Linked DNA regions of Homo sapiens. The protein of the gene in region 1 purifies or fractionates together with the protein of each later gene. This does not show direct contact. Each region holds a gene or a part of one and is shown on either strand. Other genes may lie near its edges.

What was found.
Region 2: the proteins of PXK (region 1) and WASHC5 purify together in Homo sapiens (affinity purification with mass spectrometry; one large-scale study listed by BioGRID and IntAct). This does not show direct contact.

The regions. Positions count from the first base shown.
Region 1 is NC_000003.12:58,330,424-58,336,286, reverse strand, and holds the start of PXK (PX domain-containing protein kinase-like protein), read right to left. Parts: upstream 3,396-5,863; 5' UTR 3,299-3,395; coding exon 3,197-3,298; intron 2,982-3,196; exon of another isoform or gene 2,738-2,981; coding exon of another isoform or gene 2,696-2,737; intron 1-2,695. UniProt on the Homo sapiens protein: Binds to and modulates brain Na,K-ATPase subunits ATP1B1 and ATP1B3 and may thereby participate in the regulation of electrical excitability and synaptic transmission. May not display kinase activity.
Region 2 is NC_000008.11:125,078,293-125,082,584, forward strand, and holds part of WASHC5 (WASH complex subunit 5), read right to left. Parts: intron 4,176-4,292; coding exon 4,091-4,175; intron 3,470-4,090; coding exon 3,369-3,469; intron 639-3,368; coding exon 446-638; intron 1-445. UniProt on the Homo sapiens protein: Acts as a component of the WASH core complex that functions as a nucleation-promoting factor (NPF) at the surface of endosomes, where it recruits and activates the Arp2/3 complex to induce actin polymerization, playing a key role in the fission of tubules that serve as transport intermediates during endosome sorting.

The DNA.
Region 1 (5,863 bases):
TCAGTTTTCCAAACCACAGAATTTTTCCCTACCAAGTTCACAAATCCTAAATCATTTCTGTTATAGGTGGTTTCCCAGCTGGGTGCAGTGGTTCACACCTATAATCCCAGCACTTTGGGAGGCTGAGGTGGGAGGATCACTTGAGGTCAGGAGTTCAAGACCAGCCTGGGCAACACAGCAAGAACCCCATTGGTATTAAAAAAAAAAAAAAAAAATATATATATATATATATATATATATATATATATGTTTCCCAAGGTTAAACAAACTTGATAAATGAAAGGAACTATGGACAGAAATGAGCTTGCTTGCAATAACGCCCTCTAATGTGTTTAACGCTTTGCACAAATGTTGTCAGGGAGTGAAGAGATGGAGGGAGGAAGGAATACATTTTACAAATACTTCATCAAGATGATTTCATTTGATCTTCCTAACAACCTTGGGAGGCAGGCAGGGCAGGCATTTATTACTCCCATTTACAGATGACAAAACTAAACTTCAAAAAGGTTTAAGTGACTTGCCCAGCCTATATCACATGACTAGCAAGTATCAGCTCAGACCTGTATTAAGGTCTTGCCTCTTCCAACCCCAAGTCTGTCTCTAACTCCGTATGTTTCTGTCTACAGCCAAGGAGTAACTTCCTAGAGATTCAGCATTTCAAAGCGAGAGTAGAGCTCTGACTTCTGGAACACCATCTCCCTTCAGCTACCAAGCTGGAAAGCCAACTTCAATCTCCCCAAGAAAAAACAGTGCCTTTCTCTTCTACATACCCCTCTTAACAACTACTTCTTTCCAAAATAATTTCCAACAGTTCCTGTTTTAAAAAAGACTTACTCATAAGACACTAACAGTCCAAAAAGTTTGCATCAGCGTAAGATTTTCTCAATAAACTTCAGGGCTGATGCAACATTTCTCAGTCAAACTTTACAGCTAAAATGACAAGAACACAGAACAGTCAAAAAATTACGCAAGACAATGCTACAGTTTTTTACTCTACCACATCTGCCTCTATGGGTCTCCTGTGAGTCACTGTCTTTTGTGGTCAGTCATCCCTACAAGAACTGCCATTTTCTACCCTAAATTATTTTATTTTTTAAAGAAAAGATCTGCAGGGCCAGGTGTGGTGGCTCACATCTGTATACCAGCACTTTGTGGGGCTGAGGCAGGAGAACGGCCTGAGCCCAGGCGTTCCAGACCAGCCTGGACAACATGGTGAGACGCTGTCTCCACACACACACACACACACACACACACACACACACACACACCAGCCTGGACAACATGGTGAGACGCTGTCTCTACACACACACACACACACACACACACAGACACACACACACACACACACACACACACACCCTTACAATAAAAACAGAATCCTATTACATCTTTCGCCACCTAGCTAAAGCACTGATCTCTAAGTTATTTTTTCAATGTTTACAATTACCATTTTACATAAACAGAAAAAGAGGCATAGTAAGGTTGAAGTTGGATTATTTAGTCATTTGATAAACACATTTGAAATCCTATCAAAAACCAGGGAATGAGACTCAAAAGTGAGGAAGAAGTGCCCCTCCTCTTGTAGCCTGGTGGAGACAAAAAGTAAAGAAGTAATTACAGGACAAACTAATCAAGATTAAGGTGTGGGTAGGCACATGGGCTGGGGCTGTAGAAATCATGAATGCTTCCTAGGGAAAGTAATTTGTGAGTATTTAGAAACATCTATCTCTTTATTTTCAATACAAAATAAACCTAAAGGACTCGACACTATTCCCTGAAAGGTTATAAGACTTACTTGCCAATAGTCAAGTCAAAAATCAAATTTAATAGCTGAATTACTCTTGACTCCCTATCCTAAATTTCAACCCTTATGCCATACTCCCTTTAGGCACAAATGATAGCAAGTTTAACAAATTCTGTCCTGTATGTGCCTTCTCACATGTCTACAGAATAGGATTAAAGACACACAGCGTGAAATAAATAGCCCTTTTTAAAAAGATAATAATTTTCTTAACTGGAAGTGAATGCTTTGAACAATTCAAGCCCTACAAAGCACGGCTGTCAGAAGAGGAAACTGAGGTTCAAAAAAGTCTCACTTTAATACAACAGAATAAAAGGTCTCTTTGAAGTCATCAGAAGAGCTTGAACGAAAAGAGAAACAGAAGGCTATTGTGAGCTTTAGCCTCCAGATGATGACCCCCCAAACACACTGCAATGGTAAACAAACAAGCCTCTGAGTCTGAATCTGATTCGGTGGACTGACAAAACATCACAATTGAAGGAATCTCTCTCCTCACTCATTACTTTTCCAAAAAAGTCCCACTAGCTGATAGCTCCAGGTTTCTTGCTGGTTCCTAGATTTATTGCTTGGAAATTATAATGCATAGTGGGCCTTTCAAAAAAAAAAAAAGGTACAAGCAAATGAAAACAACCACGGTTTTAAAGCCCCATAAAAGACCGTATATGTAGCAGAAATGAACCCTGCCAATGTTTACTATGAGGACCTATTACTCCTTTATGCTACTCGAGTGGATTTTAAACTCAAATGAATGCTACCACTGCCCACTAAAGAGCAAGTTAGAGAAGCACATTCATACACCTGCTTAACAGCGCCCCGACTGCCGCCCCCACCACTTCCCGGGACCAGGGCCAAGCGGCTGACCTGGAAACGGGGCTGCAGACCCCAGCCACTTACACTCTGCTGTCCCAACAAGTAGGCTCTGGAGTCACACTTCATTTGGCCCGGCACACCCTCATCCCCATCACCCAGACCCTCAGCTGCAAGGAGGAAATTACACGGCCTCAAAAAGGAAAAGGCTGGCGGCGGGCAGAAGTGGATGGTCCTGAGCGGTCTCGTTCCTGCTCCCCTAGTCCAAGGTGAGCCCGGGAATCCCGCAGCCCCCGCCCCCGCCCCCCAACTCGGAGTCGCTTTCCTGGTCGCCGCCGAGCTCCTTCCACCCCGCGGCGCCGGGAGCTGCGGTCCCCATCCTTGGCCCCTCCGGGCCTCAGCGTTCGCCTGGGCCCCAGGGGCCCTGACCCAGACCCAGCGGCGCGCCACAGCCTTCTCGGCCAGGGCCGCCCACCCTGTGGCCCGGTCTCCGTCCGACGACCCTGCCCGGCCCGCGCCAGGCAGCCCGCAGCCCCCTCGCGGCCCGGGGCCGCCCCACGCCGCCCGCCCGCCCGCTGGGCCGCGCACCGTGTGGGACTGCAGGCTCTGGCTCGCCTCGATGGCTGCTGTCAGCGGCACCGTGTCGTCCAGCAGCACCTTGCCGGCTGGCGGCTTCTCCATGAAGGCCATCCCGGGACGCCCGGCCGCCGCCGCCTAGGGACGCGAGGTAGGAACCCGAGGCGCCGACTCCCGCCGCCCGCCCGGTTCCACCGCCGCCGCTGTCAACACGCGCCGCCCCACGCGCCGCCGGGCCCGCGGGGTCCTAGCGCCGCCCTTCCCACGGCCGCCGCCCCGGAGTCCTAGCGCCGACCCAGCGCAGAACGTGTGGGGGCCGCCAGCACTGCCGCCCGCTGGCCCGCTCCTCCGCCTCGCGGCTGCCATGGGCCTGCGCTTCCCTGCTCCTCGCAGCCGCACCGCAGACCCGGTGCCCTTAGCTCCGGGCTTCGGACCAGGGAACACCACCCTAAGCCATCACTACCAGGATCCTCAGATCCAGAGACGCCTGGTCCTGAGCCCTGGGATCCAGGAATCTTCAGGGCGAGATTTCCAAACCAGGCCTCTCAGAACTGGGCTTTTCGGGGACCGTACCTCTTGAAACCCTCAGAACTGGATCTCTCTCATCCCCCAGGCCCAAGGACCCTAAAACTCAGAAAAAGGGCCTTTAGGATGGGACCCCCAGTCTGAGCCCTGCAAACCCAGAGACTTTCTGAAACAAGCCCTTCCTATTGAAACTTCACAGGGACTCTTGAACGTGGCTCCTCAGGCCTGAACACCTAAGAGCTGGACCCCATAATTGGAGGTCTTGGGCCCCAGAACCCTCAGACCCAAGCTCTAAGAACTGGAGACCCTATAAAATGGTCCAGAGACCCCTAGCCTCTACTCTTGGCCCCCACTGCGGGCTCAACCACATCCCTTAGACTTGGGAGTTTTTGATCCCACCATATGGACTAGAAGAACTTCAAACCAAGAGCCAAGCCAGAGAACCTTGGGATCAACTTCTCAGCCCTAAATCTGCCCACAGTCTGCCTGAACCCAAAGCCATAATCCTGGCACCACCTCATCCCCCCCATCTCCATATACACCTAGAAATTTCACCCACACTGCCCTCTCCTAGGGCAGCATTCCAGGATAGTGAAGAGTTAAATTTAGAATTGGAGGACCATCATCTCCATGGCTCTGGCATTTACCAGCTGTGTGATCTTCAATAAGTTACCCAACCTCTCTGAGTCCCAACTCCCCAATTTGCAAAGTGGAGATAATATTATTTGTATGAAAAGGTTAATACAAGGAATGCAGTAGACTGGGAAGGGGCTTGGCACATAGTAAAAACTCAAACGGTGGTCAGGCATGATCGCTCACGCTTGTAATCCCAGCACTTTGGGAAGCCAAGGTGGGTGGATCACCTGAGGTCAGGAATTTGAGACCAGCCTGGCCAACATGGCAAAACCCCCTCTACTAAAAATATAAAAATTAGCTGGGCATGGTGGCACGTGCCTGTAGACCCAGCTACTCTGGAGGCTGAGGCAGGAGAATTGCTTGAACCCGGGAGGGGGAGGTTGCAGTGAGCCAAGATCATACCACTACACTCCAGCCTGGGTGACAGAGTGAGACTCTGTCTCAAAAAACAAACAAAAAAACAGACAAACAAAAACACCTCAAACCGTGGTCAGGCATGATGGCTCACCTTTGTAATTCCAGCACTTTGGGAGGCTGAGGAGAGTGGATGGCTTGAGTCCAGGAGTTTAGCCTGGGCAATATGGTGAGACCCCGTCTCTACAAAAAAATTTTAAAAATACCTGGGCATGATGGCTCACACCTGTGGTCCCAACTACTCAGGAGGCTGAGGTGGGAGAGTTTTTTGAGCACAGGAGGTTGAAGCCGCAGTGAGCCATGATCATGCCACTTCACTCCAGCCTGGGTAACAGAGCAAGACCGTCTCCGGAAAAACAAAAAAAAAACAAAACAAAGTCAATATTAGTTTCCTCCTTCCCCTACAGTTGACAGAATGGAAGGTTCCTAACTCTTAAATTTGCCTCCACTAAATTTCTACACTTCAGATAAGGGAACAAAGTTCCTTGGTAATCCCACCACCACCACCAAAATTTGACATCACAGGAAAGGCCCACATCATACATAAAGGGTCCCTTCTCCAGATCTCAAGCTTATTGGGATTGGTGGGCAGCCCCGTTGAGTCAAGTAGCCATGAGATTGGTCCCAGGGGCCAAGATCTAATAGAGCGAGATGTGAAGAAGGAATCCTGGACCTTCATGATTCAGCCCTAAAATAATCAGAACTCTCCCTCCATTCCACTTTTGTGCCAGTGTGTTTAAAAGCAGCAGTCTATTAAAGCAAAACCATATGTCATTTAGGGAGGATTCAACTTTTTACTTTCATTTCTTTGTTTTAAGGCAAATAGATTATTTCTCTGCCAGAGTCACAGAAACCAAAATCCAGCTATAATCATTACTCCTATTGTGATGTGGACTGACCAAGACAAGGCTCTTTTCTCTTACTGCAGGTGGGAGTATAAATTGGCGCCACCTTTCTGGAGGGCATTCGTACATTCATTCAACAATTATTTGCTAAGTACCTACTATGTAATAGACCTAGTACTAGGAGCTAAAACAAATATGTATTAAGGGCTTTGAAAATGTTCTTATCCTATGACCAAGTAATTCTGCGTCTAGGAGGGTA
Region 2 (4,292 bases), on another chromosome or scaffold:
ACTGCTGCATGCTCCAGTGGCACCCTGTGCTTACCCTAAGATAACACCCATCTTGCTTTACTATAATCCTGTCATCTGCCTTTCCTAAGCTACAAGCTCAGTAGGGGCAGGGACATGGCCTGTCTTCTTCGGTGATGGGTCCCCAGCATTGCGCATGTGAATGGGCACGTATCACATACTCAACAACCATTTCTTGAATGAATGACTAAAAGAATGCATCTTCTTCCCAATAGCTCAAATTCCATCTTCTCCCTGAAATATATGATTCTGGCAAAATTAATAACCCTCTTTCCTTTATCATCCTGGGGTGTAGCTCAAAAGGTTTTAAAAGGTTCTACCTGCTTTTACTCTTTTGGGAAAGAAGGAAGGAAAGGAGTAATTAAAGAGGGAAGTGAAATCAGTCTGTTAAACTGTCTTAATAGGTCTTAATAGATTTAATTCCCACCTGGTTGTAAATATCATCAGATCTCAGTCGACCAATGACCATACTGATGAAGGATTCGTTGATAGGCACTCTCTGGAAATAGCTCTCGGGATAGTTGGATGGTCTTTTGGCACCTGGTTGGCTAGAATAACCTGTACTTCGAAGCAGCTTACAAATATCGTCCATATTTGAATCAGCAGAAGATCGAGCAGCACTGAGTCATATTCACAATGGGAAACAAAGACCCAAAACACACATATTAGAAACTGAAAAGTCCAATAAAGTAGAATTCCATTCTACTTTGACTCAATATAGTTTCAGATATGATCACAGGTCCATCTATATCCTCAATATATCCTCAAGATTCAAAATTATGTGTATATATATGTGTGTGTGTGTGTATATATATATATATATATATATACATTTTTTTTTGAGATGGAGTCTCGCTATGTATGTATATATAACCTTTTTTTTTTTTTTTTTTTTTTTTGAGATGGTGTCTTGCTCTGTCACCCAGGCTGGAGTGCAGTGGCGTGATCTCAGCTCACTGCAACCTCTGCCTCCAGGTTCAAGCAATTCTCCTGCCTCAGCCTCCTGAGTAACTGGGACTACAGGCATTTGCCACCGTGCCTGGCTAATTTTTGTATTTTAGTAGAGATGGGGTTTCACCATGCTGGCCCAGGCTGGTCTTAAATGTCTGACCTCAACTGATCCACCCACCTTGTCCTCCCAAAGTGCTGGGATTACAGGTGTGAGCCACTGTGCCCGGCCTCAAAATTATATTTTTGAAAGCCTGTTTAGAAGATGGGTATTCATACTATGTAAAGGTCCATAATCCCTTTTCCAAAATCCTTAGGAGTGGATTTGTTTCGGAATATAGCATTTTTCAAATAGTAAGAGTCATATGGCATATAGATCATACACAATACAACACTCCAGCAGGGTCTGAATTGGCATCTCATGATCAACATAAGTGAATAATTCTGGAGGAAAATTTATAAATATTTACAAAAGTGAGATAAGTGAAGACTATATATAGCCTCACACCTATTCCAGGCAAGTTTTGACTCCAAATGATTTCAGCTTACATCAGGTTTTGCTGCCAAATGAATTACTATGTATATGTACATGTGTGTTGTGTGTATACTCGTGTATATATATTTTTTCAGAGCTCTTTGGATTTGAAAATTGTGGGTAAAGAATGTGAACCTGACATTTTACAAATTAAAAAATAATTTAAAAATATTATGTCAATTTAAAGTAAAATATATCTAACTTTTTTCTTGGCAAGCTGTTCCTTCTACAGAGATCTAATAAACAGGTCTGTGATTTTTCCGGGTGGAATAGTAAGCTCTGAAAGAAATGAACTAGATTCAAAGAATCTTAGACTTGGATATGACCTGCTATTTGCTGTAAGGATCTCTTTTGCCACGACTGTGACTTGGAAGTGTTCAGTGTCACTTCAATAATAAATGCTCACATTCTAATGAATTAGCTGTTGTACCAAAGGGGACAAAGCCATATTTTCAAAACTGGGCTTCATAAGCCAATATTTTTTTCTTCTTCTTTACACTGTGTATAGTTTTTGTTTTTCCAGGTACTCTCAGAAATATAGGAAAGGCCATTCAAATCTCATTTTTAAAAACATGGATGTTAAAACAGCTTGGTCAAACTGACATGAATGAACACTGCTAGAACACTCCCTTCAGCTGAAAGGAAAAGGCTAGTTGAGGAGCCTAAGACTAATTTGCTGCTGAGGACACAGTAGTACCTGGTATTGCCGAAAAGTATAATGTCCCCAAAGAACCCCCTTCTCCTTGTCTACTTTGTCCTAATTTTTAAGTTTGAAAATGTTAATTCTACTCTTTACATCTTTAGCTCAAGCTCCTGACTCCTCCTTCTTGACAGTTTCTTCTCTGAATCTTGACTATCTCCGACATTGACCTGGTATTCCATTTTTAGCTCATTCAACCAATTGAAAATCTGTGCGTTAGACACTAAAATTAAAAAGTTGGTTAAGGTGGCTCCTGTTTTCAAGACCTTACTTCCTGAAGAATCACAGTTCTGTATAGATAAACACAACAAATGATTTGTGGATATGTGCTGTTGCTTGATTTGTTTTTGTTTCTATGTAAACATGGGAGAGAATTCACTTTCAACCTGACTCTGAATGACAACTTTTCAAAGTCATCAAACTGAAATGACAACAGAAAGCACACTTATTTCCTTATATCTGCCAAGGAGTAATATTTGAAAACTTAAACAACAAAAGCAAAAATAATCTTCATTAGATTTCTAAGATTCTTTGAAATTTAGCCTCAAGGTAAAGAAAGTTCACAATTCAGACTCCTTTTTAAAATTGGAGTTATCATTAGGGACAGCATAATCCATACTTCTAATAATCTATAATATATAGAATACTTGATATGTAATACATAGATTATATAATTTATAATCATTATGAAATATGTAATTGTTATATACCTACAATATGCTCACAAGACATAAGAATCTTACTTTTTTTTTTTTTTTTTTTGAGACATAGTCTCGCTCTGTCACCCAGGATGGAGTGTAGTGGCATGATCTTCGCTCACTGCAACCTTCGCCTCCCGAGTTCAGGCGATTCTCCTGCCTCAGCCTCCTGAGTACCTGGAATTACAGGCGCCCACCACCGTGCCTGGCTAATTTTTGTAGTTTTAGTAGAGACAGGGTTTCACCATGTTGGCCAGGCTGGTATCAAACTCCTGACCTCAGATGATCTGCCTGCCTTGGCCTCCCAAAAGTGTTGGGATTACAGGCGTTAGCCACTGTGCCCGGCTGAATCGTATACTTTCTTATCTATTCTTGGATTACTGCTGTTCACAGTATAAGGAATATGGGGACATACACTGCATTTTACCGACAGCAGCGTTTCGGAAGTGTAGTCCTAGCCCAGGAATACCTGTATCGGTAGTAAGAAACCAGCATCCTCTCTCTGACTTCTCCTTCAATCTTTTGGTCAATGACCAGTAGCATAACTCCATATAAGTACAGTGCTTCACACTAAGAAGAGAAGAGGACAAAAGCCAAAATCACTAGATTATACATTCTTAGGGAGTAAAGTCGGTAATCATGAAAAATATTGCTTTGCTCACACTTCTTCAAAAAGTTTTAGATTTCAAGGAAAAGGTAGGTTTCCTCCAAGGAGCTCTTACCTTCTTGCCGAATGGGCCTTGAAAAGTTTATGTAAAACAGATTTTAATTCATAGTGATAATTTTTCAGTTGACCTATTTTGGCTATGTTGCTTGGGACACCAAAATAGCAACCCAATATTGTGTATACCTCTTCATCATAAAATCATTCACTTATTCAATCAGCATTTCTTAAATGGTTAGTATGTACTAGGTATCAGGACAGATGGCTGGGATGCAAAAAGTAAAGAAGACAGAATTCTTACACCGAGGAGGCTCATAACTTCCACATAACTTTTAACTGTTTTAAATTCTGTTCAAAGTCTATGTTCTAAACTCAGATATGGACCTGCCAGTTAGAAGATAATTAAAAGCTCATTTCGCTTCTCTTTAAAGAATGGTATTTCGTATATATTTGTGACTTAAAAGAAAAAAAAGTGATACTATGTTTGATATTCTTGAATTTCATTTTAAATAATCATTATTACTTACTAGAAGTTGTTTTCCATCTTCATTGAGAAGCACAGTTTCTAAGGTTTGCTGAATATAAACCCCTTCATTGAGATCATCTAGATATCTAGAAATAAAACCACAGTGCAAGTTATTAATTTATAATAGAAACTTTAACATCTTTAAAGAAGGAAAGATTTTTAAAAGATAAGGCAGGATGCCAGGCATTCTGGCCTTCCACTAG